Linked DNA regions of Homo sapiens. The protein of the gene in region 3 interacts with the protein of the main gene of each other region in a pairwise test. Each region holds a gene or a part of one and is shown on either strand. Other genes may lie near its edges.

The links.
Region 1: the proteins of POU2AF1 (region 3) and POGZ interact in binary tests that used the Homo sapiens proteins (3 or more experiments, as listed by UniProt).
Region 2: the proteins of POU2AF1 (region 3) and PAX8 interact in a two-hybrid assay, tested with the Homo sapiens proteins (one large-scale study listed by BioGRID and IntAct).
Region 4: the proteins of POU2AF1 (region 3) and POU2F2 interact in a two-hybrid assay, tested with the Homo sapiens proteins (one large-scale study listed by IntAct).
Region 5: the proteins of POU2AF1 (region 3) and SMAD4 interact in a protein complementation assay, tested with the Homo sapiens proteins (one large-scale study listed by IntAct).
Region 6: the proteins of POU2AF1 (region 3) and TBX6 interact in binary tests that used the Homo sapiens proteins (3 or more experiments, as listed by UniProt).
Region 7: the proteins of POU2AF1 (region 3) and KRTAP19-3 interact in binary tests that used the Homo sapiens proteins (3 or more experiments, as listed by UniProt).

The regions. Positions count from the first base shown.
Region 1 is NC_000001.11:151,421,264-151,425,719, reverse strand, and holds part of POGZ (pogo transposable element with ZNF domain), read left to right. Parts: intron 1-658; coding exon 659-765; intron 766-1,433; coding exon 1,434-1,771; intron 1,772-2,168; coding exon 2,169-2,323; intron 2,324-4,456. UniProt on the Homo sapiens protein: Plays a role in mitotic cell cycle progression and is involved in kinetochore assembly and mitotic sister chromatid cohesion.
Region 2 is NC_000002.12:113,268,669-113,273,124, reverse strand, and holds part of PAX8 (paired box protein Pax-8), read left to right. Parts: intron 1-4,456. UniProt on the Homo sapiens protein: Transcription factor for the thyroid-specific expression of the genes exclusively expressed in the thyroid cell type, maintaining the functional differentiation of such cells.
Region 3 is NC_000011.10:111,372,162-111,376,617, reverse strand, and holds part of POU2AF1 (POU domain class 2-associating factor 1), read left to right. Parts: intron 1-4,456. UniProt on the Homo sapiens protein: Transcriptional coactivator that specifically associates with either POU2F1/OCT1 or POU2F2/OCT2. It boosts the POU2F1/OCT1 mediated promoter activity and to a lesser extent, that of POU2F2/OCT2. It recognizes the POU domains of POU2F1/OCT1 and POU2F2/OCT2.
Region 4 is NC_000019.10:42,121,990-42,126,445, reverse strand, and holds part of POU2F2 (POU domain, class 2, transcription factor 2), read left to right. Parts: intron 1-2,151; exon of another isoform or gene 2,152-2,267; intron 2,268-3,519; exon of another isoform or gene 3,520-3,721; coding exon of another isoform or gene 3,722-3,749; exon of another isoform or gene 3,750-3,759; intron 3,760-3,869; coding exon 3,870-3,935; intron 3,936-4,067; coding exon 4,068-4,102; intron 4,103-4,263; coding exon 4,264-4,320; intron 4,321-4,456. UniProt on the Homo sapiens protein: Transcription factor that specifically binds to the octamer motif (5'-ATTTGCAT-3'). Regulates IL6 expression in B cells with POU2AF1. Regulates transcription in a number of tissues in addition to activating immunoglobulin gene expression.
Region 5 is NC_000018.10:51,053,416-51,057,871, forward strand, and holds part of SMAD4 (mothers against decapentaplegic homolog 4), read left to right. Parts: intron 1-1,365; coding exon 1,366-1,578; intron 1,579-4,456. UniProt on the Homo sapiens protein: In muscle physiology, plays a central role in the balance between atrophy and hypertrophy. When recruited by MSTN, promotes atrophy response via phosphorylated SMAD2/4.
Region 6 is NC_000016.10:30,085,008-30,089,595, reverse strand, and holds the end of TBX6 (T-box transcription factor TBX6), read left to right. Parts: intron 1-385; coding exon 386-653; intron 654-756; coding exon 757-903; intron 904-980; coding exon 981-1,051; intron 1,052-2,646; exon of another isoform or gene 2,647-2,744; coding exon 2,745-2,818; intron 2,819-2,900; coding exon 2,901-3,084; intron 3,085-3,157; coding exon 3,158-3,371; 3' UTR 3,372-3,803; downstream 3,804-4,588. Other genes in the region: PPP4C (serine/threonine-protein phosphatase 4 catalytic subunit), read right to left, coding at 4,534-4,588. UniProt on the Homo sapiens protein: T-box transcription factor that plays an essential role in the determination of the fate of axial stem cells: neural vs mesodermal. Acts in part by down-regulating, a specific enhancer (N1) of SOX2, to inhibit neural development.
Region 7 is NC_000021.9:30,490,962-30,494,408, reverse strand, and holds KRTAP19-3 (keratin-associated protein 19-3), read left to right. Parts: upstream 1-2,395; 5' UTR 2,396-2,451; coding exon 2,452-2,697; 3' UTR 2,698-2,947; downstream 2,948-3,447. UniProt on the Homo sapiens protein: In the hair cortex, hair keratin intermediate filaments are embedded in an interfilamentous matrix, consisting of hair keratin-associated proteins (KRTAP), which are essential for the formation of a rigid and resistant hair shaft through their extensive disulfide bond cross-linking with abundant cysteine residues of hair keratins.

The DNA.
Region 1 (4,456 bases), on a different chromosome or scaffold from region 3:
ATGGTATATTGTTCAGGCTTAAGAAAGGAAATTCTGCTACAACATGTGCTGCAACATGGTTGAACCTTGAGGACATTATGTTAAAGTGAAATAGGCTAGTCACAAAAGGACAAGTACCATATGATTCCACTTACTTGAGGTACCTAGAGTAGTCAAATTCATAGAGACAAAGTTGAATTGTGGTTGCCGGGGTGGAGGCGAGGGGAGAATGGTGAGGAGGTTTTTATTGGATATAGCTTCAGTTCTGCAAGATTAAAAAAAACAAAAACCTTAACAAAAAAATCACATACAAATTATTCTTAGCTTATGGGCCAAACAGAAACTGGTAGCTGGGCTGGATTTGATCTGTGTGCTGTGGTTTGCTGACCCCTGGCCTAGAGTTAGAACAGTAAAAGGAAGCCTCAAACATAGTGATCTTGAGCCCAGGGAGGTCAAGGCTGCAGTGAGCTGTGGTCGTGCCACTGCACTCCAGCCTGGGCAACAGACTGAGAGACCGTGTCTCAAAAAAAACAAAAACAAACAAAAACCATAGTGATCTCTCATGCTTGCTTACCCTTTTATATACTTCTCAGGGAGTGTTTGACTTTTTCCCAAAAGGTCAGTAATCTTTTTCCAGTGTCATTGTATTAATCTTATCAATTCTTCTCACTTCTTTCAGTGACCTCTTCCATCCCAGTATTTGACCTCCAGGATGGTGGACGGAAAATATGTCCACGATGTAATGCTCAATTTCGTGTTACTGAAGCTTTGAGAGGTCACATGTGTGTAAGTGATATCACCTGTGATCCAGCTTAAGTGGCTTCTGCCATTTACCTTCATTAATATTGGAAGCTTGTAAGCAGGGGCTCTAAAATGACTGAAGCTTTTTAAAGGGTTACTGTTTCTCTTGGTCTGTTTTTAGAAGAGCTGTGTACTTTGGAATGTGATGGGATACATTTAAAGACCCTCAAATAGATCAGAACATATGTGATCTTACTTTCTTAGTGTGGTAGATTTTGAAACCACACAGGAGAACAGGTTTATAGATAATAAGGACTCAAACCATATTGGCCTCAGTTCATTTTTGTTAATTGTGTCATTGGATGAATCGGGAGCTCTTACTTCCATTTTTTAGCTTTTCATTTTTTGGTATTAGTCCAGATAAAAAGGTTGGAACTTCTTCTTTGCCAGGGAGCTCAGAGCCAAGTTATACTAATGATTAAGGGACCTAAGACAGGCAGGAGGGAGAAATACAAAGTATAGCGCTTGGGTGGCATATGTGGATATACTCTAGAAAAGGAGTAAAACTTGGAAACGCTAAAAAAAACTGAAGGGTGAAAGCTGAATGAGAATACCTGAAACCAAACCGTTAACAAGGAATGGTAGTGAAGTTAAGGAGTTAGCACATTCTAGCCCCCAGGATAACCAGAATGATCAGATGTCTTTCTTTATAGTACTGTTGCCCAGAAATGGTTGAATACCAGAAGAAAGGAAAGTCCCTGGATTCAGAACCCAGTGTCCCATCAGCAGCAAAGCCCCCATCCCCTGAGAAAACAGCTCCTGTTGCTTCCACACCCTCTTCTACACCTATTCCTGCTCTGTCACCGCCTACCAAAGTACCAGAACCAAATGAGAACGTGGGCGATGCCGTCCAGACCAAACTCATTATGCTTGTAGATGACTTCTACTATGGACGGGATGGTGGCAAAGTAGCCCAGCTCACAAATTTCCCTAAGGTCGCCACATCTTTCCGATGCCCACATTGTACCAAAAGGCTAAAAAACAATATTCGGTAAGTGTTTAAGAGCCTTGGAAGTTACCTTGAACAAGAGAAGACTTACATTTTCTTATATATTTTAAGTCTTTCTCTTTGGAGAATGGACCTAACTACTATGCAGTCTTGCTGGGGTTATCATTAAATCAATAACTAGGACTATAGAAGGAGATATTGTGGTAATAAACAAAAGGTAACTGGATCGAGTAAGGGAAAGCAGTATGTCTCCTTTCCCAGAACTCTCTTAGTTTCAAGAACTCATTATCTTTCTGGGCTCAGAAAAGGATATCCCAAACAGGAAGTCTGGGGAATGGAGGGGAGCAGATAATGTTTGTTCTGTGATTTTACCATTATATTTCTAAAAGGCTACCAATTTTTTATGTTTTCTGTACTTTCTCTTTGTGCTTTATTACAGATTCATGAACCATATGAAACACCACGTAGAACTCGATCAGCAGAACGGTGAGGTAGATGGTCACACTATCTGCCAGCACTGTTACCGCCAGTTTTCCACTCCCTTCCAGCTTCAGTGCCACTTGGAAAATGTTCATAGTCCCTATGAATCTACTAGTAAGTTTGGAAACTCTTAAACTCAAGGGGAATATACCTTGCTGTTCACTCATTGAATGGCGCTGGGGGGAGCCCATTATATTTATTTACATGTGGGTAACAGTGTAGAGGAAGTACTTTTCATATTTGTAGCCAGTTCTTTACTTCATTCACCTTGTTTTTTTTTACAAGCCTGACTTTTATTTTGTTCAAGCATGGATTGAGTTCAGTGTTAGATCCTGAATTGTTAGGGGCGTTGATTCAGAACCACTGTAGAAAAACAAATGTAATTAATTTATTTCTTAGGTCTCTTTATAGAAGGAACAGTCATCTATTTGCTCTTCCACTTTAGTTAAACCCTGATAGGTTTTATGTAGGCTAAAAGATAATATTGTGAAGTACTTTATCATTAAGACATTGCTTTCAATGAAATATAAGATGAGCTGGAGTGTTTTCTACACTGTATATTTTATACATGTAGGCTGGACATAAGCTCAAAGAAATTAAGTAGGATAAAAGATAATATGGCCGGGCACGGTGGCTCACGCCTGTAATCCCAACACTTTGGGAGGCCGAAGCAGGCAGATCACCTGAAGTCAGGAATTCGAGACCAGCCCGGCCAACATGGCGAAGCCCCATCTCTACTAAAAATGCAAAAATTAGCTGGGTGTGGTGGCGGGCACCTGTAATCCCAGCTACTCGGGAGGCTGAGACAGGAGAATCGCTTGAACCCGGGAGGCGGAGGTTGCAGTGAGCTGAGATCATGCCATTGCACTCCAGTCTGGGCAACAAGAGCAAAACTCCATCTCCAAAAAAAAAAAGATAATATTATGAAGTACTTTATCATTAAGACAGTGCTTTCAGTGAAATATAAGGTAAGCTGGAATGTTTTTCTACACTGTACATTTTATAGATAGATGTAGGCTGAACATAAGCTCAAAGAAATTGAGTCATTTGCTTATGAGCGTACACCTCTAAATACACCTCTACTGGGGATACATAGTGAGGATTTAAGCCCAGTATTGAGAATACTTCTCATGTCCTTTACGGGATTTCCAGTTTTGTTGTAAAGACAAAAATTATGTAAATATAGGAAAATGTGAGAACAAGATAGTATATTATAAACATAGACATTTTAAGATATCATTGATAGGTGAAATACTTCAGAGAAGGGAAAAAATCCTTGTGGCTAGGTTTCCAAGAAAGTCGTGCTTAAATTTAAGAAAGGTTTAGATGGATGGAGAGTAGTAAGAAAAGCTTTTAGGTGATTGAAAACAGCATGATCAAAAGCATAGAAGACATATGCATATTATCTGGATGCATTTGCTACAAGTAAAAATCCTTAACTAAAAATGAATTAAACAATAAGGACTGGGTGTGGTGGCTCACACCTGTAATCCCAGCACTTTGGGAGGCTTAGGTGGGTGGATCAGTTGAGGCCAGGGGAGACCAGTCTGGCCAACATGGCAAAACCACATCTCTACTAAAAATACAAAAATTCGCTGGCTGTGGTGGTGTGCGCAGGTAATCCCAACTACTCAGGAAGCCAAGGCATGAGAATCACTTGATCCCAGGAGGTAGAGGTTGCAGTGAGCTGAGATCGCACCACTGCACTCCAGCCTGGATGACAGAGCGAGTCTCTGTCTCAAAACAAAAGAAAACAATAAGAATATCTGTTATATCATTTAACTGAGAGATACAGAAATGGATGCTTCAGCCTAGAATTTGACTGCCCTGCTGGTTTTCAACAATTCTCTTGTCTCTGGCTCATAGCAGGGTGGCTGTATAAGTGTCAGGCACTATGTCCAGATAAAAAATTGTTAGACAAAGAAGAGATCTTATCTTCCCATCTTTCTTTCTTGAATCTGTTTTCTTATGAGTGAGAATTGCTTTCCTTTTATATCTCTTTGACCATTTATTGGCAAGGGAAGTGGGATTGACATTAATGGCTTACAGTAACACTAGGCAGTAGAAATACGCAAGCTTCATGAGTAATTTTAATTTTTTTCACTTTAAATACAGTAGCGCTCCCTTATCCTCAATTTTTCTTTCTTGAATCTGTTTTCTTATGAGTGAGAATTGCTTTCCTTTTATATCTCTGACCATTTATTGGCAAGGGAAGTGGGATTGACATTAATGGCTTACAGTAACACT
Region 2 (4,456 bases), on a different chromosome or scaffold from region 3:
TGCTCTATTTATCAGTCCAAGAAGTGCTGAGTTCTCCGTTGAGCTGAGAAGCTTTGAGCTCTATGGTTCTGAGTACACGAGAAGCCAAAAGATAAAAGAAACTGTTTCATTTAAGAAAAAAAATGTTTTAAAAAGTGGGGGCAGGGGAATGAATGAGCCCACCTTCAAGACTGCAGATTAGTTTTGCTTTTGTTTTAGTTGAAAACTTGGTGCACTGCCCCCCTTCGGGTCCTCATTCTCTTCAGAGATAGAATTTAGTATTGAAAACACCCTCTAAGAGAGGAGAATATGCCCTCACGTTATCTTCTCTTAGAGGGTGTAGAGTTCTTTGCGGGAGGGATTCTTTCCAAATGCAGATTGGAACACCTTCTTCGCCCAGGTTCTTCTGGGGAGGGAGCTAACACATTCTGCCTAGGAAATGCAGGCAATGACTACTTTCAGCAGGAGTTCTAGACATTCCTTTCGTGGGGAAGGAGTACAGAGCATGACAATCCAGGAGTCTCTTGGCTCCTGAAAACTCCACTCTGCCACACCAATCCTAGTTCATCCAGTCAGTGGTCAGTGACCCTGGGATGGATGGAATCTCTGCAGTGAGGTGGAGTAGGAAGAAGCATCCACTCGTCTTTGTTTATCTACAGTAATGACACTTTTAAATGGATCTTGAGGATTCATAATTATTTCCTTAGGTCCAGAGTTAGGGCTGACAAGACTGTTTGGGTTGCTGAAAGCCCCTCTAGACCCCTTCGTTGGCCAGATAGAAATACAATGAGCAAATTTCTCTTATATAAGCCACTGGCCAGAAAAATATTCATAGGAAGGCTTCTGTCTTAAACCTGTAATTCATGTAACTGAGTCTGGGCTTTACCTTGCTTGGCTGGTGGGGGTCCTTCCCCAGGAATGAGTCTCGATAGAAACCAGCATCTGTTTACTGAGGCATGTCTAAGATCAAGGGGAAGAAAGTCCAAGAGTCCCCGAAGGATACTTGGGTTCTGTTTCTGTGTTTCTTCCCGTGGACCCTCCATAGTCCTGAATGCCATATAAGATGCCAGCAATCCCTGTGGCTCAGCCAAGCCAGCCTCACAGCTCCTCCTGCTCTGCCCATGTCACATTTACATCCAAAGAAAAAGAACGTCTGCACAAGAGCTGAGCATACCTGGCACTTAGTGAGCTCTCAATGAATGAAAGCTGTGATTCTTCTCTCTGAGGACTGCCACAGGTGTGGTGTGGTGCTGAGAGCAGATGTATTCATCATCTCATTTAATTCTCACAACTCTGCCAGGCAGGTATTGCTACGACATTTTTATAGAAGAGAGGGGAAGGAACTGGTGTTCAAAGAGGTTGATAAGACTCCAATTCCCCTTTCCACTGCTCCCTACCTCAACCACCCAAAGTCCAGCTCATCAGAACTCGGCTACTAGATGATCGACACCTGGAATCCTAGTGGAAACTCCCATCAGAACCCTTGATAAGAAGGCCCAAGTGCCCGTGCTGGCAGTGACAGGCAGAGCCTTCCGTCTATCAGCTTGCTTTCCTCATCAGTGTTCCCCACTCTCCAGTTTAATTAAAATACACCCCTTTCCAGTATGGTTCTCAGTCTTCCCATCTGTGAAATGGAGAAGTGGTTCCTGCCTGGATGCCTCTCCTAGAAGTAGCTATGAGAAGGAAGGAGATGATCAGCCACTTGGAAAGGCAGAGGGAGGGAGGCCTTACTTTCACACATCCCCCCAAGGCTGCCGTGTCTCCATCTGCACTGGAAAAAAAGCAGCTATCCTCAGGCACCACAAGTTGAAGGACCCTGGGGAACTTACTTCCCTAACTTGGCATCTCCCAAGCACACTCAGCCTCCCTGCCTAGGTTCATCTTGGATGTGATGCGAACAGCTTCAGAGTGGCTGGGGAGGCTTCCCCATGCTGTTAGGGGCCAGCACTGGGGGCCCCATCCACAGGCAGCATAGCTAGGAGTGGTGGCCACTGGAGGTGCCGGTTGTTATGTCCCAAAGCTTAGGTTCATCCCCTCTGCCACTTCCTCAGGATCCCTCTCACTCAGGGGCTTAAAAGCAAGGCATTTCTCTTTTGGAGCCTCTGCAGAGGTTCAGTTTTAGAACGTTAGCTTGAAAGAAAGGGATTTTATTTTAATGTTTTCACTTTTTCATGTAGAAAGTAGCTGCTTAGCTCCCGGGCTCTCAGATGAAAACCTCTCTTTGGTTTAAGCAGAGGGAGAGATTGAGAAAGAAAAAATAATTCATTCCTCCCTGCTTTTAACTTTTTTTCGTCATCTTCAGCCACAATACTCATTGGTTTTGTCTTTTTTATTTGTCTTCTTAAATGGCCTTGGGGTGACATGGGTAGTTAGTGCTAATTAGTCCACTAGGACATATTGTGACTGTCAGGGCAGCACAGCAGAAGGGTCCAGGAGCTGGTTGGGTGACGCACCTAAGAGAGAAATGGCTTAATCTGCTGTCATCGGTGTGTACTACAGTGTTCGCGCACACCCAGGCCCTCTGTGTGTTGCAGTTTTGATTCTTCGGCATCTCCAGGAGGACAGTAGAACTTATTATTCTTGGGATAAACTCAGGGGCCATGAGGTGTCAAGAGAATGAGAGGCTTTTGAAATCAGCGTGAAGCCAGGATGAAAGCCCCTGCCCTGCAGGCAGAAGAAGAAGGCAAAGCCCGGGCTTCCATCTTGGCCCAGACCTTGCTGTTTTTGTGTGAACTTAGTCAAGTCAGATGTCTCTCTGGGCTTGTACTTCCCCTTTATAAAATATGGGGATGCTGCAGGGCTTCTGGGGAGTCATGTGAGTAAAACCTGTCTCCTCACCTGGCACATAGCTGCCACTCAAGACAATTTTCTGTGCTCCATGTAGTAGTCACCAAGGAGTGGAGTCTCCAGAACACATTCCCAAAGTCCCATTGTCGTAGTATTTCCTGTGAAACAGCCACCAGTAACTTGCAACCCAGTACTTCGTTCCATTTAAAATTTAGGACAGACTTTTCAATAATTCATGTGGACAAAATAATAGATCTACCACCTAGGAGTACTGGGATTAAATGAAGGGACGCATAGAAAGTGCTGGCTATGACCTCTGCGGCTGTTATCTGCTGTTACCACAGCCTGAAATGGAAAAGGATGCCTTAGTTCACCTTACCAGAAAACCCAGTCATAGGGAAAACACTAAGCTTTTGATAGAATGGCTGTCTGTGGACTGTGTGTTGAAATCCAGAACATTCTAAGGGTTTAATAGAGTTGGTCTTTGAGCAAAAATGAGCTCAAGTGGGTTTGCAGTTATGCTGTGTGTGCGGCTAAGACAGGACTGCAGGAAGACTTGCCTGGGGTACTTGTTTTTAATTGACACGGAATCATATATTTATTTTTAAAAAATTAAATCCACGTATCCTCCACCTTCTGCTTTCTTCTCTCTCCCTCCCTCCCCACCTGCCTCTGTCTCACAATTTTCTACTTTGGGTAATAATAATCCAGCTTTGGCCTGATAGCAAACCCTGGTTGACATTTAAAAGTCTCTGTGATTAGCTGAGCACCAAATCTCTGACTTAAGCTTTGCTTTGCTCCTTTGCTTCAACACTGAGCAAGGTAGAAGGCACCTCTACAGGGCAGGGAGCTGGAGTCTTGCTCTTCCCTTTCAAGAAGGCAGACCCGCAGAACCAGGAGGAAGAATGATCAGACAAAACAACTCAGTGGTAGGAAAAGGACTGAACACTAACAACCCATTCGGCAGGAGCACCAAAGTTCATTTTTCTTGAACAGTCACCCCAGCACAACTATGTTGTGGCTGTTGACAGGTAAACCCCATCTGGCTTTCTCCAGTCTGCTCCTCATTGTTCCAGAGCCAGTGTGCTCCATGACGGTCTACACTGGGGCTCCATCTCAGGGCTGCTGGACAGTTTGTGGCAAAATGTGGCAGGGCTGTAGGTAGAAGTGCCATGGAGATACTTCTGCCAAATGAAAATGCTTACTGGACACTTCCAATGCCTAGGCTCCATGCCTTCACAGATATGCAAACTTTCCCCTCTGTAGGCCTTACATCTCTTTGGCAGTATGAAAAGACCTGGGTCCTTCGAGCCTTGGGGACCTTCCTGGGCCCCCCATATTCCCTGGGGACATGGCAGTACCCCATACCAGGAAGGTCCCCATGGCCCATGGCCCACCCCCACTGCTGGCCATGGGGCTGTCTAGACAGGTGCCCCACACTGTGACAGGCCTGCCTGGGCCTCAGGGCTCCCCCTTTTGCAGGTGGCACCTGCTTTCAAGGGTCCTGCTTACAGTGACATAGCTGCTGTCCTGAGACTCTCCTTTCCTCAGGGCCTGGCTGGGGGCCATGCCATGTCTGCAAAGCACTTGGTCACGTGCTGCCCACATTCCAGCTGTCCTCACCCATCCCAGCTCCAAAGCCACCTCCCCATGAAGCTGTCCATGATTCCTCTTCCTCTTCCCCACCTCC
Region 3 (4,456 bases):
CTCCTCCCTACCTAGCCCATGACCCTAGTTTGTGGACTAAATGTGAACCCTGGCTTTTGGTTAAGATTAGAGCATAAAGTGACAAAGCCCAGAACTGCTGGCACAGAGAAGTAGAAATCTTCAAGCCCCAACCAATGGATTTGAGATTTGCTTGATGGGCCAATTGGATGAAGAAGTCACTCCATCTGTAGATTCTCTCCCTGGGTTCTGGACTTGGACCTGCTGGTCAGGTGCACATGTGAAGAATTACCATCCCTCCCCAGCTAGTAACAGTGTAGTGGAAATAGCAGGAACCTTGGAGGGAGACAGGTCTGAAAGTTGCCTGTGCAACTTAGTTCTTTCTTTGTGAGAAGGAAATTTCCATTCATTTCCTTATCTGGGAAGTGGGGATTCTAATGTCTGCCTCCCAAGGTTTTTGTGAGAATTAAAGTAGAGAATGTAGGTAAAATGATAGCAAGTTTCCTGATAAGTAGTGGTAGGGATGAGTTAGTACCTTCCGTCCTGGAAACCACCTGTGGGCCCATCTTGAATGATCAGTGTTATGTTAAATTCATATATTCTTTTCCACACTTTGATTAGAATAGTTAAAAAGCCACAGTCTAAATATTCTTGGGTGATAGGATATTGCAAAATTTTCCAAGGGTCTAAAATAGTGGTCTGCAAACTATGGCCTCTGTGCCAAATCAGGCCTGCCACTCCATTTGTAAATAAAGTTTTATTGGAACACAGCTCTGTCTATCATTTGAATATTGTCTAGGGCTGCTTTTGCAGAGTTGAGTAGTTGTGACAGAGACTGTGCAGCATACAAAGCCTAAAATATTTTCTCTCTGGCTTATAATAGAAAAACATTGCCAACCTCTGGTCTGAGATGATTTGCTTGGTTCTTCAGGCATTCATTTCCTTAAGATACTCAGTATCAGGCCGGGTGCGGTGGCGGGCGCCTGTAATCCCAGCACTTTGGGAGGCCAAGGCGGGCAGATCACGAGGTCAGGAGATCGAGACCATCCTGGCTAACATGGTGAAACCCCGTCTCTACTAAAAATACAAAAAAATTAGCTGGGGTTGTGGTGGCAGGCCCCTGTAGTCCCAGCTACTCGGGAGGCTGAGGCAGGAGAATGGCATGAACCCGGGAGGCGGAGCTTACAGTGAGCCGAGATCGTGCCACTGCACTCCAGCCTGGGGTACAGAGCGAGACTCCGCCTCAAAAAAAAAAAAAAAAAAAAAAAAGATACTCAGTATCCTGGGGTTGTACATTGCCAACACCAATGGGAAATAAAACTTGCAGCCAATTCATTAAATAATTTGTACAATGCCCCAAACTGATTTGATTGAATTTCTTCCTTAAAAGTGATAGAACTGTGTATAATAAACTGAACTCCATTTGTTAGAAAGTGAACAAATTGGACAGTTGCTTTTTATTGTTGTTGTTTGTATTAGGGAACAATCTACATGCTAATGAAAGGCAGGCTTGACTGATTTTCTTTGGACTGGCTGATTGTCTTGGTGTCCTGTGGACTTGGCCTTGGAACAGGAAATAATTCGTATCAGATTATTATGTCATGGATATGCCTTTGCTTTCAGACAACTTGAACAGAGCAGAGATTTAGCAAACAGAAAAATTAAGGACTTAAAATTCTCATCAACATAGAACTCTGCTCTTCAGATGTACTCTAGGGTTCCACTAAAGAGCCAATATTGTTTGGGAGGCAGTTAAAGATAAGTAAAATGTGTACTATGCATATAATTTTTGGAAGCCTATCTCCTACATAAATTTAAGCACAACTTACAATGAGAGGTAATTTAGGTTTCTGGACAACCTCTAATATTTCTATTCTATGTTACAACCTTTGCTTATTTAATAAGCCTAGTGAGCACCTTTACTTCTTACCAAGTTGATTCCATTGATTCAGCAGTTCTTTTTTTGAGATAGAGTCTTGCTCTGTCACCCAGGCTGCAATGTAGTGGTGCAAGATCAGCTCACTGCAACCTCTGCCTCCAAATTCAAGTGATTCTCCTGCCTCAGCCTCCTGTGTAGCTGAGATTATAGGCACATGCCACAATGCCCAGCTAATTTTGCATTTTCATTGGAGATGGAGTTTCACTATGTTGGCCAGGCTGGTCTCGAACTCCTGACCTCGAGTGATCCACCTGCCTTGGCCTCCCAAAGTGCTGGGATTACAGGTGTGAACCACCACGCCTGGCCAATTAAGCAGTTCTTGCTGTTAAGGGCAAGTAGAATCCAAAAGAGAGACACAAATTCACGTGCACTGTCTGGAGGTGAAATAAAGGACAAACATCAACCAAATACACAGATTTAATTGGTAAAAAAGCAGATGATGTTCTTGATGGATATTTTACTTCCTGCCCCTTATATTTATTTACTAAAGAAAATGCCAGATTTGTCCCCAAAGTTACTGACTCAGAAGTTTTGAAAGCTCTCTCCCAATTCACACTTGGGATTCTGTTCTTTCATGAGGAACCAAAAAAAAAAAAAAAAAAAATCAAGTTTGCCTACAGCTGTTCATTAAATATGTGGACATTTAATTCATAAAGAAGTCTTATAAATATTTGCTTTTAACTTTCCCATTACAAAGTGTTTTTTCCCCCTTTGACATCTTTCTAAAGTAGTTTATCTTCCCACTTAATGAAGATGTCCACCTATTTCTTATTCTGAGCCAACCAAACCAAAGTTGGCTAATTGATTATGAACATTAACATAATTCTCACCTTTATGAAATGCTTAATAACACTCTAGTTTTCTCATTTTTGTAGAACTGCTTGACAACTAAGTGAGCCTACCTGGGATGGGGAGGCCTTCTCTGAAACCCTCTTGTCCCGCTTGTGTGATACTGGGGACAAGCACTTGTAGGCAGGAGCCAGGGGTTTTACTTTCCATTCTACAGATAATTAGATGAGAGACCTTAAGCAAGCCACCTAACCACTTTGGGTCTCAAATGTTCTAGTGCTGGAATGGAACTTGCCTTTTCCTGGCTAATTTTCCTGGAGATTGAACTTGATTGAGGTTCTTTGCCAGCTCTAATTGCTGAGTTTTCCTGAGTGTTTATACAAAAAATAAATTAAAGTTTAAAATCAGAAGTCCTTAATTTAATAGATGGGATTCTTCTATCTGCTTAGGGCAGTGTTTTTATACCTTGGCTACACACTGGAATGCTCTGAGGAGATTTAAGAAACACAGATGCCTGGATCTCAACCTAGAGCTTCTGATTAAATTGTCTTGGGCATTGAAGGAGAGCTGCAAATGGCTCCCAGGTGAGAAGGCTGAGAACTGCTGACCTGGAGGTTGAAATGGATGGCTTCTAATAAACCTTTGGGCATTGCTAAGAGCAGAAGAATGCTCAATCCTTTTAACAGTGATAAACAAACATCTCTGGGGAATGGAGAACTTATTTGGTGCTATGCAGTATACAAAATGTTCTGTTGGATCAGTTTGGATTACATTTGATTGCTGGTGAAGAGACCTGAAATAACGTAGATTTAAGTAAGACAGTGGTGTCCTTTCTCTCACATAAAAGAAGTCCACAGTAGGGTGTTCAGGATCTTATGGAGTCTCACAGTGCCAACATCATCCCAGGCTCCTTTTTCCTTTCTAATCTGCCATCCTTGGCATGTGGCTCTTGTCCTCAAGATTTTTTTCATAGTTGCCATTGTAACTCCAGCCATTACATCTGTGAGCATCACATCTTCGGACAAGCAAGAAGAAGAAAAAGGAATAGCAAAAGATCATGCCTCCTGATCGCTGCCCCTTCTCCCTCCCAACACACAACTTCTGCTGACATCTGATGCCATTTCTATCTACAAGGGAGAATAGCATAATTGTTTAGCTGGGCACATTGCCACCCTCCATAATGCAGGGGCTGTTAGAAAGGAAGGGAAGGTGGATGTTGAGTGTAACAACTGCCAGTCTTCACTATGCTTTGAGTGCATTATCTCATTTAATCCTCATAAAAACTCCATGAAGCAGATTCTGTTGTAAGGTTCATTTTATAGATGAGGAAACTGAATCATGAAGATTAAGTTAGTAACTCTCCTACAAAGCAAAATTCATGTGAACAGACCTCAAGTGTTGGCCTGCTAAGCTGTCCTGTCTCCCTGCCACAGTGCCTGTCTCTCTCACATTGCTTAGGAAGTATTCTTGGTAAAAGCACAGGCCTTCCATGTCAGATAAGGGACCAATGGCAAAAAAAAGCCCTGCAGATGGTAGTTCATACCATGAGAACCCATTTTGTTTAACATTTACTTCAGCTTACCTGTTGAAGAAAACAAGGTCTCTGCTTGCTGCTGGGCCTCTTCTGCGGGACAGTTTGAAGATATTTTAGCTATAATAAAAGGCTCAGAGAAGGATCTAGAGTTTGCCCCCAAATAACCCAGCCCTACTCTTTTCTGGGCAGTTTTAGTAGAGAGCCCGATGTAGCAGGCAGCCTTTGCTGGGAGCCAA
Region 4 (4,456 bases), on a different chromosome or scaffold from region 3:
TTTGAGATGGAGTCTTGCTCTGTCACTCAGGCTGTAGTGCAGTGGCACGATCTCGGCTGCCTGCAACCTCTGCCTCCTGGGTTCAGGTGATTCTCCTACCTCAGCCTCCTGAGTAGCTGGGATTACAGGCACACACTACCATGCCCGGCTAATTTTTGTATTTTTAGTAGGGGTAGGATTTCACATTGTTGGTTAGGCTGGCCTCAAACTCCTGAACTGGTGATCTGCCCACCTCGGCCTCCCAAAGTGCTGGGATTACAGGCATGAGCCACCGCGCCCGCCCCCTCTTCTTATAAGGATGCCAGTCAGATTGTAGTAAGGTCCACCCTAATGACCTTATTTTACCTTAATTACGTCTTTAAAGACCCTATCTCCAAATACAATTACATTTTGAGGTATCAGGAATTAGGACTTCCGTGTATGAATTTTGGTAGATGCAACTTAGCCCATAGCAGAGGTTAAGGATGAGTGTGGACTTTCTGGGCTGGCAGTGGGGTCCGAGGCTGCCCTGTTCTGTGGACGGGAGAGGGATGCCCAGCTAGGTGGGAGTGTAGAACCTGCACAGCCTGCTGTCAAGCAGACCCCCAAGCAGGGGGAGATGCTCGACATGGGTGAAGAGCACTGTGCATGAGCTGCAAGAGAAGAGCAGTACAGGGTGGTGGGCCAGCCCCTGGAGGCCAGGTTGTTTATTTCTCCAGGAGATAGGGAGGAGCCAGGAAAGGATTGCCCTGAGGCAATGTGGAGCTCCGCTGGAGGGACGGAGGCCAGAGGAGGCTGGGGCTGCAGTTTTAGGGATGCTAGGAGGGGTGGGATTTAGGACCGGGTTAGAGTTAGTGGCTGCCTGAAGTAGGGCTAAGGTCTGGGTGAACTAGAGCTAGGATCAGGCAGGATTCCCGCCTTTACTGCTCCAAAGTCAGGACACACTTGCTGCCCAGCTCCCTTCTTGTCCTTCTTATATCTTGTATCAGTAGCCATTTAATGCCCTGTCCCCAGGGCCAGGAAACAGGACCTGAACTCTGGTAGCGTCCTGGGCACCCACTCCCCACCCCCACCCTCAACAGTCTACATCTTTTTTTTTTTTTTTGAGACAGAGTCTTGCTCTATTATCCAAGCTGGAGTGCAGTGGTACAATCACGGCTCACTGTAGCCTCAATCTCCTGGGCTCGAGCGACCTTCCCATCTCAGCCTACTGAGTAGCTGGGACTGTAGGTGCCCACCACCATCATGTCCGGTTAACTTTTTTATTTTTTGGAGAGACGGGGATTTCACTATGTTGCCCAGGCTGGTCTCAAACTCCTAGCCTCAAGTGATCTACCTGCCTTGGTGCAGTGTGCATCTTAATGGGACTGTGTGCTGGCGTTTTGCTTTTTAGCTTTTAAATGTTTTCTTGCTTGTTAAAACATAACGTATATAGAGTAAAGTGCTCAAATTTTAAGTGTATAGCTTGATGAATTTTTGCTTATGTAAGGACCCTGTAACCACCAAACAAGATCCTTTCTTACCTGGTGCAGGCTTCCTCATGCCCTTTCCCAGTCAGTACCCCCAAGGTGCTCACTCATCTGACTGTGATCATCTGCTATCAGCTTGCCCGTTTTTGAATTTCCTGTAATTGGAATCATAAATTATGTCTGCCTTTGTGTTTGGCATCTTTCATTCAGCCTCATGTCTCCAAGCTTCGGCCATGTGTATGAAGCAGGAGTTTGTTCTTTTTCATTACTGTGGCATATTTCATTGTATGGACATACCACATTTTATTTATCCATTCACCTGTTGACGGCCCCTTAGGCTGTTTCCAGTTTGGGGCCATTATGAAAGACTGCAGAAGAATTCTGCCCATGTCCTTTGATGGGCAGGACACGTGTTTCTTTTGGGCAGATGCCCAGGAGTGGACGTGCTGCATCTTAGGGAGAGGGCATCTTTTCAGCTTTTCTGAGTGGTGCTTGTATCAATTTACACTCCCACCAGCAATGCATGACCTGTTTTTTTAATTAGGAATTTAAAACTCAAGCAGCATTTCACATTGAATAATACTCAATTGCAAGATTTCTAGACTTTTTTTTTTTTTTACAGTTACTGAGTTCTTCCTATTTCTTATCCCTTACTTTAGCTCCATTCTTTTTTTTTTTCTTTTTTTTTTTTTTTGAGACAGGGTCTCACTCTGTCACCCAGGCTGGAGCGCAGTGGTGCAGTCACAGCTCACTGTAGCCTTGACCTCCTGGATTCAAGCGATTCTCCTGCCTCAGCCTCCCCAATAGCTGGGACTACAGGTGCGTGCCATCATGCCCAGCTAATTTTTGTGTCTTTAGTAGAGATGGGGTTTCTCCATGTTGCCTAGGCTGGTCTTGAACTCCTGGGTTCAAGAGATCTGGCTGCCTCAGTCTCCCAAAGTGCTGGGATTGCAGGCGTGAACCACTGTGCCTGGCTTAGCTGTCTTCTTTAAGTATCTTGGTGCAGAGAACACTAGAGTTGGACAGCTCCTTTAGTAGGAGTGGGGTCATGGTTTAGGCAGGGATTTTGGAGTGAGTTGTGGGAAGAGTTTGGATCAGGGACAGGATCTCAGGACAGTTGGGAGTCAAGGTCAGATGAAGGACTTGAGCCATCTGGGCACAACTTGGGATTCAAGGTGAGTAAGTGGACTAAGGATGGGTCAGGCTGAAGCCCAGATTTGTCCTGGGGTCTAGGACCAGGAAGGGTTGGATTCAGTTTCAGGATGAGCTTGGGCGAGGGAACTGTTGGAGATGAGATGGCTGGAAGTCAGGACTAGGGGACATTAGACTAGAGTGGATCCGATTAGAAGTAGGAGCCCAGCAGTCATGAAGACCAGGGGTCCAATCAGGGCACATCTGCTGTCTTGCTGTGCTTTTGGGGAGGTGACATCCCTTCGTGGAGCCTCAGTTTCCTCCTCTGTAAAACGGGGTAATATTAGCACTAACCGCTAATGTGAGCTGTGAGTCATATCTAGCTCTATGCTTGGCACTGGTGAGCACTCGCCTTTCTGTGAAAAGTATCAGAGCGCTTTGAGGACAGGCATTTGTCTCCGTGGGTTTATGTGCTTGCTGCCTGCCACCCTCCCTTGGCCACCTCCTTTCATTTCCTGGGCCTAGGGAGCTATAGAATGGGGTTGTATTACAGGGGTGGACTTGAGACTGCAGCTGGGGCTCAAGCGTGAAGTCCCAGATCAGGTTTAGATTGGAGGACAAGCTCAGGGGTAGAGCCAGATGGAGCTGAGGTTACAGAGGATGAGGTTGGGTCTGCTAGGCCGGTGTGCTAAACATAGGAAGAAAGTCCAGGTGGGAGTAAGATGTGGATGGGGAAAGTGGTGGGGTGGGAAGAGGGCCAGAGGGCGGCTGAATCACACATGCTGAGATCTGACAACTGCCTCCTTTGGGGACGCTGCAGCCCCATCACATCTCTGAGGCCCCACTCAGAGTGGAAAACATGTCTCACCCGAAACCTGGTAGGGCAGGACGGGAGCCTGGGCGGCCCGCCCCAGGAGGAGGCCCAAGGCTGCTCTCCCTCCTTTGGGACGTCACCAGCCTCCTCCTGGGCAGCTGATACCTTCTCACGACCACCTTCCATCTCCTGCCCTGCCCTTTGCTGCACTGTGGGTAACACCCCTGTGTTACTTTCTGGAGAGGTGAAAGGATAAGGCAAGATCCCCCAAGGCCTAAGTGCTGTGTCTCATCTTGCCAGAGGAGGGCAGAGGCCCAGAACGGAGGACATGTCTCTTGGGAAGAGACACTTCCAAGGTGGCTGGGGGTAAGGGGGGAATTTGGGGGAAAGGCTTGGGGAGTGTGGTGGAATGGGGGCCCGAGAGCCCTCCTGGATTCCCCTCCTTCACCCCACTTCCATTCCTCCTCTGTCCCCAGAAATAAGAATGTCTAAGCCCCTGGAGGCCGAGAAGCAAGGTCTGGACTCCCCATCAGAGCACACAGGTGGGTGGGCAGGGAGCAGGGGGGCAGGGGTCACCGTGGGCAGGGGAAGTGGGACAGATGGGAAGAGAGCTGGGAGGGGACAGGTGTGGTGGGGGTGGCTGATGACAACACATCCTTTCCCTCTCTTTGCAGACACCGAAAGAAATGGACCAGACACTAATCATCAGGTTAGGAGGGAGTGGATAAGCGGGAGGGGGTGGGAAGGAATGGGGAGAGGGGTTCAGAGGGGGCTCTGTGCCGCCTATGGTAGGAGGGCAGGGAGCGGGGGTGGTCAGAAGCTGCTTCACTGCACTATTCCCATCCCCTTGCTCCTACTTTCTCTTTGCAGAACCCCCAAAATAAGACCTCCCCATTCTCCGTGTCCCCAACTGGCCCCAGTACAAAGGTAAGCACCTGTCAGAACAGCCAGGGAAGTGGGCAGCGCTTGGAAGAGGGTCCTCAGGAGGCCTGCCTCAGTCCAAGGGCTGAGAGAGCACTGAGCCTTGGTACCTTGGTAACGAGGTTCCTCCCGCCCCTTCTCA
Region 5 (4,456 bases), on a different chromosome or scaffold from region 3:
TATAACTTGGCCAATGTTGATGAGTGGTTGTGTTCAGTTTTTTTTATTGATACATAATTTGTTACGCATCCTTTTGATTATCTTTTTGTTTCCATAAAATTTCTAAAGAGGAACTTTGGAATGGGATTTATAGGTCTTCAGAATATCATCTTCATGACTTTTGATGCATGAACATACTTCTTAAGAGGTTTTTAAGAGGTTGTACATAGAAACTTGCACAATGGATGATTATTACTGCCTTAAACTAGTCTCAATTTAATAAAAAGTACCCATGTAACTTAACTGATATTTACATGTAGTAGATTTTTTTTCAAAGGTTGACATAGGGAAAGATAAGGGAAATGATATGCTGGTTCTTAATGAAAAAGGGAATGTCTTTTTGTGGTCTACTAATTGACTGCTTTAAGAAGAGAACCTACTGTTAGTTCAGTGGATTGTTAAGTTCTGGAGTAGTGTTAGTTTAGAAGCAATAAAGGATTGGTTGCTAAAGGTAAAAAGCAAACCTTAAAACAATAACCTAAAAACAAATGGGAAGGTTCTGGGCAGAGAATTAACATTGTTAATGCAGTTCAGTTTCAGTTTTCTTTTTGTCATACAGCAGAGCTAACTATTTCCTGGTTGGTTAATGGAAAGATGTTATGCTGTATCAGCTGGAATCTAGCTTTGCTTATGAAGGTGTAATCACATAGGTGAAAGATGTTGATTACTGAGTTTTCTCACACCATATATTAATCAAATACTCTTATTTGGGTTGGGTTTCTAGAGGGAAATTTCAGTTTGACTTTTCATTTATAATTTTTCCGTTTGGTTCTAAACCTATAGGGGACATTACATTCAGTACACTTCATTTTTAAAGAATATGTTGCTTAACAATAATTCTAGATCCTGGGATTGGATATCTATCAGATCCCACTCATATCTCCACAGTGTGAAATTAACAAAAAGATATAGTTAAATACTCAGTCTCTATTTAGACCGAATAATTGTTTTTCTCAGCTGGACACATTTTCCAGCCATTCGGTTTTTGCCTGCCTTATGTATTTAGGTGATTATTCTTCTAGGTTTATCAAGAAACTGAGGAGTACCTTTTTAGGATTGTTGCTGGAGGCTGTTGAAACATAGACTAGCTTCAAATTTGAGAGTCAGATTGATTGATAAAATATATCTCATGCTGTTACCGCTGAATAAATGACTTTTGCTGGTAAAGTAGTATGCTTTTAAAATAATATGAAAAAATTCTGAATTAAGGTTAGTAATTTACACTGTAATTGATTTTAGGTGTTATTATATTACTTGCTAATAAGATTTTTTTTTCTGGGAATAGAAGCTTATAAAAATTTAAAATATGTTTAATTTTCTATATAGCTCCATCAAGTATGATGGTGAAGGATGAATATGTGCATGACTTTGAGGGACAGCCATCGTTGTCCACTGAAGGACATTCAATTCAAACCATCCAGCATCCACCAAGTAATCGTGCATCGACAGAGACATACAGCACCCCAGCTCTGTTAGCCCCATCTGAGTCTAATGCTACCAGCACTGCCAACTTTCCCAACATTCCTGTGGCTTCCACAAGTGAGTTCTAGAATCAGATGTAGTCAGCAAGTTGAGTTTTCCTAATCATTGCTTATTTATGTGTAGTCACTTGGGGGGAAACTCCAAGTAAGTAAACATTAAAAGTAACTGTAGTATCTTTCATAGGTAAACAGGTATTAAACAGGTATGCACAATCACTTGGAATTTAAGTAATGGCTTTGATTATAATATTGATTTAAATTAATGATCTGATTTATACTTTACTATTACATGTAGCAGTAAGTAGCCTCTTAAGCTCCCAGATATATTTTGGAGAAATATTTAAATAATTAACAAGTAGTTTTGATCCAAGATGTTTATGAAGGTCTGTGTTAATGGAATTGCAACCTTTCTTTTAATGCGGTGTTCTTATTTTGGTTTTTCTGGGACAATATTACCTTATAGTAGTTGTCTGATTTTCTCACTGTGCAAAGGGATCTTGACAAATTTGTTATATATTGCTCAAGATAGACATTAATTAAGTCAATTTTGATATAAGCTAACTTCTATATCTCTTTTTAAAATATATGTGTAATTAAAAAAAAAAAGTGTTTCAGAAAGATCCTTCTTTTCTGCCATGTCATAGGAGGGAGAGGGGCTGCTAGGTTCAGGTTTTTGGGGGCATGATCATATGACCTGGTTCTGTTACTTATTTTCACAGTAACCAAAGGTTTGATAGTTTGCTGCTTGGCAAATGAAGTAGCTTTTTTTTCATTTTTTTTTTTTCAATTAATCATAGAGCATTGTCTTGGCATGTGTATGGTGTTAGTTGCATGCAGTTGCTAAAGGAATTTATGTAAACCCACATCAGAATAGATTTTTGACAGCTCTGGGCTAATACTGTGTTAGTTGCTACCGAAAGTACCATTATTGTATTTGCTTTACTATCAGATTAGATTCAACATAGAAATTTTGATCTTTGGAATAAATGGGGGACTGATTTCTGTAATTGTGAGTTTTCAAGTGAAGTATACCAGAATTTCCCCTTTAATTCATTACACCACTTCAAAGCAACATGTTTTTGGTTTGCTATCTAAGAGATGACAGTCTCACTATAGGCAGCATATTCTAAATGGGTCATATAGGTTAAGCACTTGAGAACCCAGTTCCTTAATCACTTGGTGCTTCTATTATCTGTCTACTTTTTATTTACCAAATTAGGAATATGGTTGACAAACAGTGGGTAGTGATAGAAAATAAAAGAAGGTACATTATAGCCACTTGAACGTAGATTAGTGCTAGAGCACAGCTACCTACTTCTGTTTATATTATCTGGAGATTGAATTTCTGTGCCTTTGTCAATGCTTACTAAAGTGACTTCATTTTGACTGTGTTGTTTCCTGAGGTTGAATCCTATTCAAAGATTAGAAAAAGTGATAGAAATGAAATGCAGCTAATTTTATCCTGGTATTTATTGGGTAGATTTTAATAATCGAATACCGTAAATACTGTAAGTTTTAGAACTTGTGTCAAAATGTTCCCTTATGTGGTGGCATGCGCCTGTAGTCCCAGCTGCTCCGGGGGCTGAGGCAGGAGAAATGGCGTGAACCCGGGAGGCGGAGCTTGCAGTGAGCAGAGAGCGAGTCACTGCACTCCAGCCTGGGCGACACAGCGAGACTCCATCTCCAAAAAAAAAAAAAAAAAAAAAAAAGAGGGTTCCCTTAGGTCTCAAAAAGTATATTGATGAAAAGAAGTTGAACTAAAATAGAAGATTTGAAAGGCTATTTTACGTGAGCTGATTTAGTCGTATTGTTTAACTTTATTTTACATACTTAGAATTGTATAAGGGAAGTATTCAGTATGGATAACTACAGTGAGTCACTTTACAATTTATGTTCTTTTGACACCTGAATATTTTAAGAATTTCCTTTTAAATACCTGTAAATTAAAATAATTTATCCTGTGTAGTTAATGACAATTTTTGTAAGTTAGCTAAGAGTATTGCCTGTAGAATTGTTAAAAATATGAACAAAACCATAATTAACCTTTAAAGATAACTTGCAGAATCTGGGGGATGAGTAGGAAGGGAGGTTGCTAAAATGTCATTTTTACAGATAAATAATTTGGGGAGTATTGAAATATTCTCTTTAGCTTTTGGTTTTGTAATTCTTAGCTTTAAGGAAATGTGATATGTAAAGAAAAGAAAAATATTCCTTTTCTTTGATACTTTGAGCAATGGTGACATGTTACTCTCTTCCATCTGATTATACTCCCATTTAGAAAAGAATGAGGTGATGCCAGTTATAAATAATTATAACTTTAGTGCTTTCCAAATAGGATTAACAGTCGAGTTAATTAATGCTCTTTAAGAAACCAAATTTCCACTTTAAAAAAAAAGCCTTAAAAATGTAGGACAGTAAGCAATATCATAGGATGGTTTTTGAATAGAATACAAGCCAAGAGAAGCTTGATTCTCTTGGTATATTACATACAGAGAGGGCAATTAATTTCTTGTACATCTGGGAATATGATGGTGTTCTTGAAAAGAAATGATTCTTGGTTTATAAAAGCTCTTGAAAAAATTTGAAAGTAGACTGATAGTTTTTTTGTTTGTTTTTAACCAGTAAATGGTATATTGATTGGACAGCAGAGCTAGATCTTTTTAACTTCCTCATCTTCACTATCACATCCTATTTAAAATAATTTTCTGCTCTGCTTTTCTCTGTCAAACCCTAGCATTCTGCCATTACTAGTATCAGTGCTGATAGTGATTAATTTTTCAGTTTTCAACATTTTCTTGAGCCTGGATTTTTGGGGTCCTAATCAGAAAGGTCCAGAGAGAGAGGTGGATGGAGTGGCCAGGATGAACTGACATACCTCTGAAGAAGTTAATATGATAGGCCAGACGTACAGTGGTGTTTTGCTGGCATTTGAAATA
Region 6 (4,588 bases), on a different chromosome or scaffold from region 3:
TGGTGCAATTGTGGCTCACTGTAGTCTTGACTTCCCAGGCTCAAGTGACCCTCCCGCCTCAGCCTCTGTAGTAACTGGGACTATCAGTGTGCACCACCATGCCTGGCTAATTTTTTAATTTTTTTGTAGAGATGGGGTCTTTCTATGTTGCCCAGGCTGGTCTTGAATTCCTGACTCAAGAGATCCTCCCACCTTGGCCTCCCAAAGTATAGGGATTAGAGGTGTGAGCCACAGCCTCCAGCCTGCCCTCTGGGTTCTAATTCCACCTCCTTTGATGTTTCTCTGACAGCTCTGGGGAGCCCGTTGTTATGTCCCGTTACTGGTGCTGGGCCCACCCCTGGCCAGTGGGTAGCTCCAGGCCTCTCCTGTCCCCTCCCTTGCACAGGCGCATGTTCCCTGCCTGCCGAGTGTCAGTCACTGGCCTGGACCCCGAGGCCCGCTACTTGTTTCTTCTGGATGTGATTCCGGTGGATGGGGCTCGCTACCGCTGGCAGGGCCGGCGCTGGGAGCCCAGCGGCAAGGCAGAGCCCCGCCTGCCTGACCGTGTCTACATTCACCCCGACTCTCCTGCCACTGGTGCACATTGGATGCGGCAGCCTGTGTCTTTCCATCGTGTCAAGCTCACCAACAGCACGCTGGACCCCCACGGCCACGTGAGGCCCAGGCTGGGACTCCAGGATAGGGTTGGGGGGTGCTGGAAGGGAGGCCAAGGGTGAGGCGCAGGGCAGGGAATCACTCCCATTTCCTCCCTCCCAGCTGATCCTGCACTCCATGCACAAGTACCAACCCCGCATACACCTAGTTCGGGCAGCCCAGCTCTGCAGCCAGCACTGGGGGGGCATGGCCTCCTTCCGCTTCCCCGAGACCACATTCATCTCCGTGACAGCCTACCAGAACCCACAGGTGAGTGACCCTGCTTGAGGGGGTGGTGGCCCCCTGCCCAGACCGCAGTTGCTTTGACCCTGCATGTGTGTCCCCAGATCACACAACTGAAGATTGCAGCCAATCCCTTTGCCAAAGGCTTCCGGGAGAACGGCAGAAACTGTAAGAGGTGGGAGTTGTTCATTCATTTGTTCATGCATTCAACAAATGTTTATTAATCACTCACTGTGTGCCAGGCACCGTGCTGGACATCAGAAATGCAGTGGTAAGTGAAAACATTCATTCACTGACTCAGCAAATACTTATATAGTACCTGCTATGTGCCAGGGACAGTTCCAGGCACTGGAGATAAAACAAACAAAGCAAACCAAAGCCCCGGCCCTCATGCAGCTGATTTCTAGTGGGGAGAGTAGACAAGCAGACAAGAGAAATAAATAAAATGTCATCTGTTAGGAAGCCATTCTAAAGAGAAGAGAGACCAGGTGTGGTGGCTCACGCATGTAATCCCAGCACTCTGGGAGGCTGAGGCGGGCAGATCACCTGAGGCCAGGAGTTCGAGACCAGCCTGCCAACATGGTGAAACCCTGTCTCTGCTAAAAATACAAAAATTAGCCAGGCATGGTGGCAAACGCCTGTAATCCCAACTACTTGGGAGGCTGAGGCAGGAGAATCTCTTGAACCCAGGAGGTGGAGGTTGCAGTGAGTCGAGATCATGCCATTGCATTCCAGCCTAGGCAACACGAGCAAAACTTCCTCTCAAAAAAAAAAAAAAAAAGAAAGAAAAGAAAACTCTGTCTCAAAAAAAAAAAAAAAAAGAAAAAAAAGAAAAAGGAGAAGAGAAATAAACCAGGAAAAGATAGGAAGGACTGGGGTGAGGTATTAGATAAGAGGCCTGGAAAGGCCTCAGTGGGAAGAAGACACTTGAGAAAGAGCTGAAGGAAGTACGGGAGGGAGCCAGGTGGGCATCTGGCAAAGCACACTAGGGAGTGGGAACAGCACGTGCAAAGGCCCTGAGGTGGGGCTGTGCCTGTGGCGTGGCTGCAGTGGAGTGACTAAGAGTCAGGCAGGGGAGGGGAAGCCAGGTTATGTCGGACAGTAAAGGTTCCGTAAGGCCGTGGGAACTGTTCCAAGTGCAGCACCTCAGAGCTGGCCCCTGCCCTCAAGTAGCTTCCAGTTTGTCAGAAGAGACAGACATGAACCAAGGAGTCACTCCATCAAATGCAAAAGCAGAACTGTGACGGATGTTATGAGGGAGGGGTGTGTGCTCTCGGAGGTCAGGGAGGACTTCCTTGAGGAACTTGCGCTTGCAGTGAGGCAAGGATAGGTTTGGTGGCTCATGCCTGTAGTCCCAGCACTTTCGGAGGCTGAGATGGAAAGATCACTTGAGCCCAGGAGTTGGAGGCTGCAGTGAGCTGTGACCTGTGACTGTGCCACTGCACTCCAGCCTGGGCAACATAGCAAGACCCCATCTCAAATTTTAAAAATGAAAAGAAAAAGGACAGGTTCAGCCCGTGAAGAGGGGACAGAAGAGGATTCCAGAGAGAGGCTGAGAGTGGAGATGGGGCAGAAAGATGAGCTAGGTGAGACTGTGCCCTGGCCTTGCCACTGGGAAGGAGTTTCCACTGATACTAAACACAATAGGAAAGCATGGACAAATTTGAGCAGGGACAAAATTCCAGCTCTGCCACTTTCTAGTTATTTAATTTTCTGGCCTTCAGTTTCTTCATCTATAAAATGGGTATAATGATGGCCCCTACCTGACAGGGTCCCTGGGAGGGTGAAATGCCTGGCACCGGGTAAGTACTGTTACCATCACCATGGCCATCACCATCATCATCATCATCACCACCACTGTTCCCCAGGGAGCGAGACGCCCGTGTGAAGAGGAAACTGCGGGGCCCAGAGCCAGCAGCCACAGAGGCCTATGGGAGCGGAGGTGAGTGTAGTCCCGATGGCGATGGGGCCAGGCCTGAGACAGGGATCCTCCCTAGCCCAACCTCTCCCTTCCCTCTCCCCAGACACACCAGGTGGTCCCTGCGACTCCACCCTGGGTGGAGACATTCGTGAATCAGATCCAGAACAGGCCCCAGCCCCCGGGGAAGCCACCGCTGCCCCGGCACCTCTGTGTGGTGGCCCCAGTGCTGAGGCCTACCTCCTGCACCCTGCGGCTTTCCATGGGGCCCCCAGTCACCTTCCCACCAGGTGAGTGGGACAGGGGACCAGGCGGGGCTGCGGGTCCCTCTGCCCTGCTCTGACATCCCTCTCTCCATGTCAGGAGCCCCAGCTTCCCGGAGGCTCCAGACTCCGGGCGCTCAGCCCCCTACTCGGCTGCATTTCTGGAGCTGCCGCACGGGTCAGGGGGCTCCGGGTACCCAGCGGCTCCACCGGCGGTACCCTTTGCCCCGCACTTTCTCCAAGGGGGCCCCTTCCCTCTACCATACACCGCGCCTGGGGGCTATCTGGATGTGGGCTCCAAACCCATGTACTGAACCACTGCTGGGCCCCTCTGCCTCCATCACAAACCTCCCGCTCCCTTCCCCCAGCCCTGGAGCCCCCTCACCTCCACCGGCCCCATCCCCCACACCAAATGGCCGCCTTGGGCCTGCCCACCCACCCCCTCAACTTCACACCTTGATTTCACTCCCACCCCCCTCTGGCTTCAAAGCCTAACCAAGGCTGCTGGGAGTCCAGCTGGGGCCGGCTTCCCCTTCCCGGCTCTCACCTCCGTGTGAATGGAAGGGGCTCTGCCTGGCCAAATGGGGCCACAGACCAGCATCCCCACTTACCAGGCCTCCCCATGGGCTCTGGAGGGGCTCAATCCCCACCCCCCCACACACACTGGTGCAGGCCACACCAGTCTGTTGTTCTGGGACCAGAGTATTTTTGTTAATAAAACTCAAAAGCCATCCATGCTCAGGAAACATTGGGCTCCTGTGTTTGGCCCTGGGCGGGGCTGGGTGAGCAAAGGCTTTGCTAGGAGACCCAGGCCCAGATCTAGACCTGTGTTTCCAGCTGCCTGACCTAGCACAAAATCCACTGGCCCTCTAGGCCCATCTCCTCTTCAGGAAAATGGAGAAATCAGAATCCTGTGATTCTGTGTGTGCCTGTGTGTGTATGCTGTTAATAAGATAAGGCTGCCCATGAGAACAGAGCCCTCTCCCTAGGGCTGGGGAAGCCAGCAGGCAGCGGCCCCTGGAGGCCCTGGGCAAGCTGACTGGCCTGAGCCTGGCCCTCTTGGCAGGTCGGGGCCCTGAGGCAGTCAAGGCCCTGACGTCCACCCCAGGTCCCAGGCCAGCAACCCTGTGCATTCCCAACCAAGTCTGGCACAAACCCAAAAACCATTTTTCTTCTTTTATTAGAATTTTTTCATTTTTTTTCTCAAAATTTTTATCTAAAAACAAACAGAAAAAAGAAGGAAAAAAAGAAAAAAAAATTATTGGAAACTTCATGGTTCAAGTGGGGAGAGAGGAGGAGGAACATGGAGCTAGGTCTCCAGGCCTCTCCAGAGAAGTCCTCACCCTCGAAGCACCCTCTTGGGGGACAGCAGAGCCAGGACAGCCCCCCCCACGCCCAGCCTCCGTCTGAGGAAGATGGCAGAGTCACAGTGGTGCGAGGGCCAGAAGGGTTGGAGGGGGCAGGGGCCGGGCGGGGTCACAGGAAGTAGTCGGCCACGGGCTTCTTGGAGGGGATGCCCCGTGTCTCTTGG
Region 7 (3,447 bases), on a different chromosome or scaffold from region 3:
TCTAGCAATAAAAAACCAAACCAAACCAAAACTGAAACCACTAAACTCCTCAAATATAGGCCTACCAGAGCAGAATCATAAATCAGTTGTGCTCTATTCATGTAGTAGACTACTTTTCAGAAATTAAAACAACAAAATTCACATCACATACGACAGAGATCTACCTAATAGTGACACACAGAAGAATTGGGGATGGAAATGGGAAGTTTCAGTATACTACATGAGACCACCTAAGTGAAGTACAGAACAAGAAAGCCTTATGTAGGATGTTAATTGTTACTCTACAAGGAATAATATTGACTGGTAGAGTCAAGCGCCAGACTTTGGGAATTAGAGTGTGCTTGTTATAGGTGGTCTATAAATATAAGAAAAATATCACCAACTTGTATACTTAAGATTTAAGTATTTTTAAATATGCCTTAAACAACAGCAACAAAAAGCAAATGAAATGATAGGTTATTTGTTCCTCTAAAGAAAGAAAGCTATTTGAGCTAATTTCTCTTTTAAATTCTTATTGTTGGATACATTCGTAGTATTGTTCATTTCTATGAGATGTAAGATTTTTACCTGTAAGAACTAGAATTCATTCATCTATTCAACACTTATATATTGAGTTTCTATTGCATGCTGGTCATTGAACTGCAGCCAGCAAATCTATCTGGAGAAATGCACAATTTCAAAATTGCTTATAAACTCATCAAAAGCTTAACAGTATATTCAAAGTAATAAAAATTAAACAAGAAATTATATATTTAAGCTTAAAGTTAAGGGCATATGTGGGTGGGGTTTGGGGTCAGCCTTGGGTCTAGGTGACTAAATTCTTAGAGTCAGCTGAGGTACTCTTTGTCTTTAATTATTATTTCCTTCATCCTGTCTTTTTATATTATACATATTTTTAGGGGATTCCTAAGACATTCACAATGCTAACAGTCTCTTACTGAATTCCCCAGGGTCTTTGGCGATGGCATCTATTAACATCTAACACTTTAATAAATACCTAACATCTTAGTAAAGCTTAGTTAGCTATTTTCTTTTAGGAAAAAAAAGAAACACACAATAGGTAAAGGTAACATAAAGGCAAAAATATCTGAAAAATCGAAGATTTTATTTATATATATATATGAATTTAAGTAAGTATTAAATGAAAATGGATGGGAGGCAAAAAGAATTGCATATATTTCACCATCTCACCTAGTCCCAGACCCTAATGGGAACTGAAAGAATATATTGAAAAGAGGAGGCCGGGCGCTGTGGCTCATGCCTGTAATCCCAGCACTGTGGGAGGCCGAGACGGGTGGATCACGAGGTCAGGAGATCGAGACCATCCGGGCTAACACGGTGAAACCCCGTCTCTACTAAAAATACAAAAAAAAATTAGCCGGGCGTGGTGGCGGGTGCCTGTAGTCCCAGCTAATCCGGAGGCTGAGGCCGGAGAATGGCGTGAACCCGGGTGGTGGAGCTTGCAGTGAGCCGAGACAGCGCCACTGCACTCCAGCCTGGGCGAAAGAGCGAGATTCTGTCTCAGAAAAAAAAAAAAAAAGAAAAGAAAAGAGGATAATTGTGTGGATCAGGAAAAAGGAATGAATGGGAGGAGGGCAATACAATCTGTATTTTTGGTAGCACCTTGGATGTCTAATATGCCAGTAAGGGAGTCGGGATGTGAAAACAATTTTGAACAGTTTGTAAAGCTGCTTAGGAAATAGATTTTTGATTACTGTGATTTGACTTTAATGTTTGAGCAATATACTGTTGTGTTGTTAAATCAAAATGGTTTTTATTTTTTAAACGAGTAAAACCAAAAAAAGAGAATATTGGTTATGATGGCCAATGTTCTAGAGTAATAGAAGAATGATGGCTTTATTTTAACTTTTTTAACCCCATGAAATTCTTTACTGTTAGGCATAGCAGGTGAGCAGATGGCTCCAGTCTTTCAAATGTTTGCTTCTCTTTAAAAAGGGACCTCACCTGAGGTAATAGATACCTCTGGAAGAATATAATAAATTTCAGAGCATTGAATTTAACCAAAGTCTGTTATTTAATCATAAATGAGTAAAACAATTCAAGGAAAGCCAGAGATGAAGCAATATTTAATTTCAAAACATAGCATTACCAACTATGTAATGCAATATGCCTACGAAGAAGTCTATTTAAGGTCTGGTATGCACAGACTTTGAAGCTACAGCAATTTCTTCTCATAAAAGTGATGCAATATGTTAAAGGGACAGCATGAGAAGACAGCAATGCAAGCTCAAACACTTTAATGAGTTTGAGGGCCTCTTCAGATGTCAGGATTGGGTCAGGTAAGTGTAACATACACAACTACACTAAAATAGGCAGCAAGTGTTTTGTTACGTGATGTGTCAGGGTATATAAGCATGCCTGCACAGATGTCAACATTCACACTCAGGACCTTGCCTTGAGCAGCAAACCAAACTCACTACCCCTGACACCATGAGCTACTACGGCAGCTACTATGGAGGCCTGGGCTATGGCTGTGGAGGCTTTGGTGGCCTGGGCTATGGCTATGGCTGTGGATGTGGCAGCTTCCGCAGACTGGGTTCTGGCTGTGGCTATGGAGGCTACGGATATGGCTCTGGCTTTGGAGGCTATGGATATGGCTCTGGCTTCGGAGGCTACGGATATGGCTGCTACCGCCCATCATACTATGGAGGATATGGATTCTCTGGATTCTATTAAACTACTGCCCCAGCAACACAATGTGTGAAATTATAAGAGGACTTTCCCAGAGCTGACTTCAATCATTGGACAACAAAGATCATGCTGGAGCTATTTGCACAAAAGAATTTAACATCTCAGAATTTCAGGCAATTTTTTTTCTCTGTATACCCACATCTCTATAATAATCCTAGTATTCTCTACTTTTGCTTTTAAAGCTGATTGAATTATCTGTTTATCTTCCAATAAAACATTCTATTTTCAAACACAATATGGTTCTGTTTTGTTCATGAAACTCAATTATACGTAAGTGATGATGTCAATGAGAGAAGCTATCTCCTTGGTTGAGAATCTATGTTTTTTCATATACCTCATAAACATGCATGCAGATAGATAAATACATCGATAGCTCCAAAGAAGAATAATTCTAGATTGAAATGAAAAGAACTGCAAAATGGTTAGTAATCTGATATTTTTCAACATTTTCCTTTTATTTAGATAGTATTCAGATTTAAGTCAACAACAAAAAGGAATACCTACTAAACATGTCTTTATATTTATATATCAAGCATATATGTTTTATTTAATTCAGATCACATTTGTCAACTCACTCTGAATGTGTAATGAATTCTTCTATCCATTCAAAATTTCTTTCTTTTTATTGTAAGAGCAAGCAAATGGTGACAGATCAAATGATATTCCTAGGTTAATTATGAAAGTGTATTTTCTTTCCAAGAATTATTGTAATTGGTATAACCTCACCCTATCATA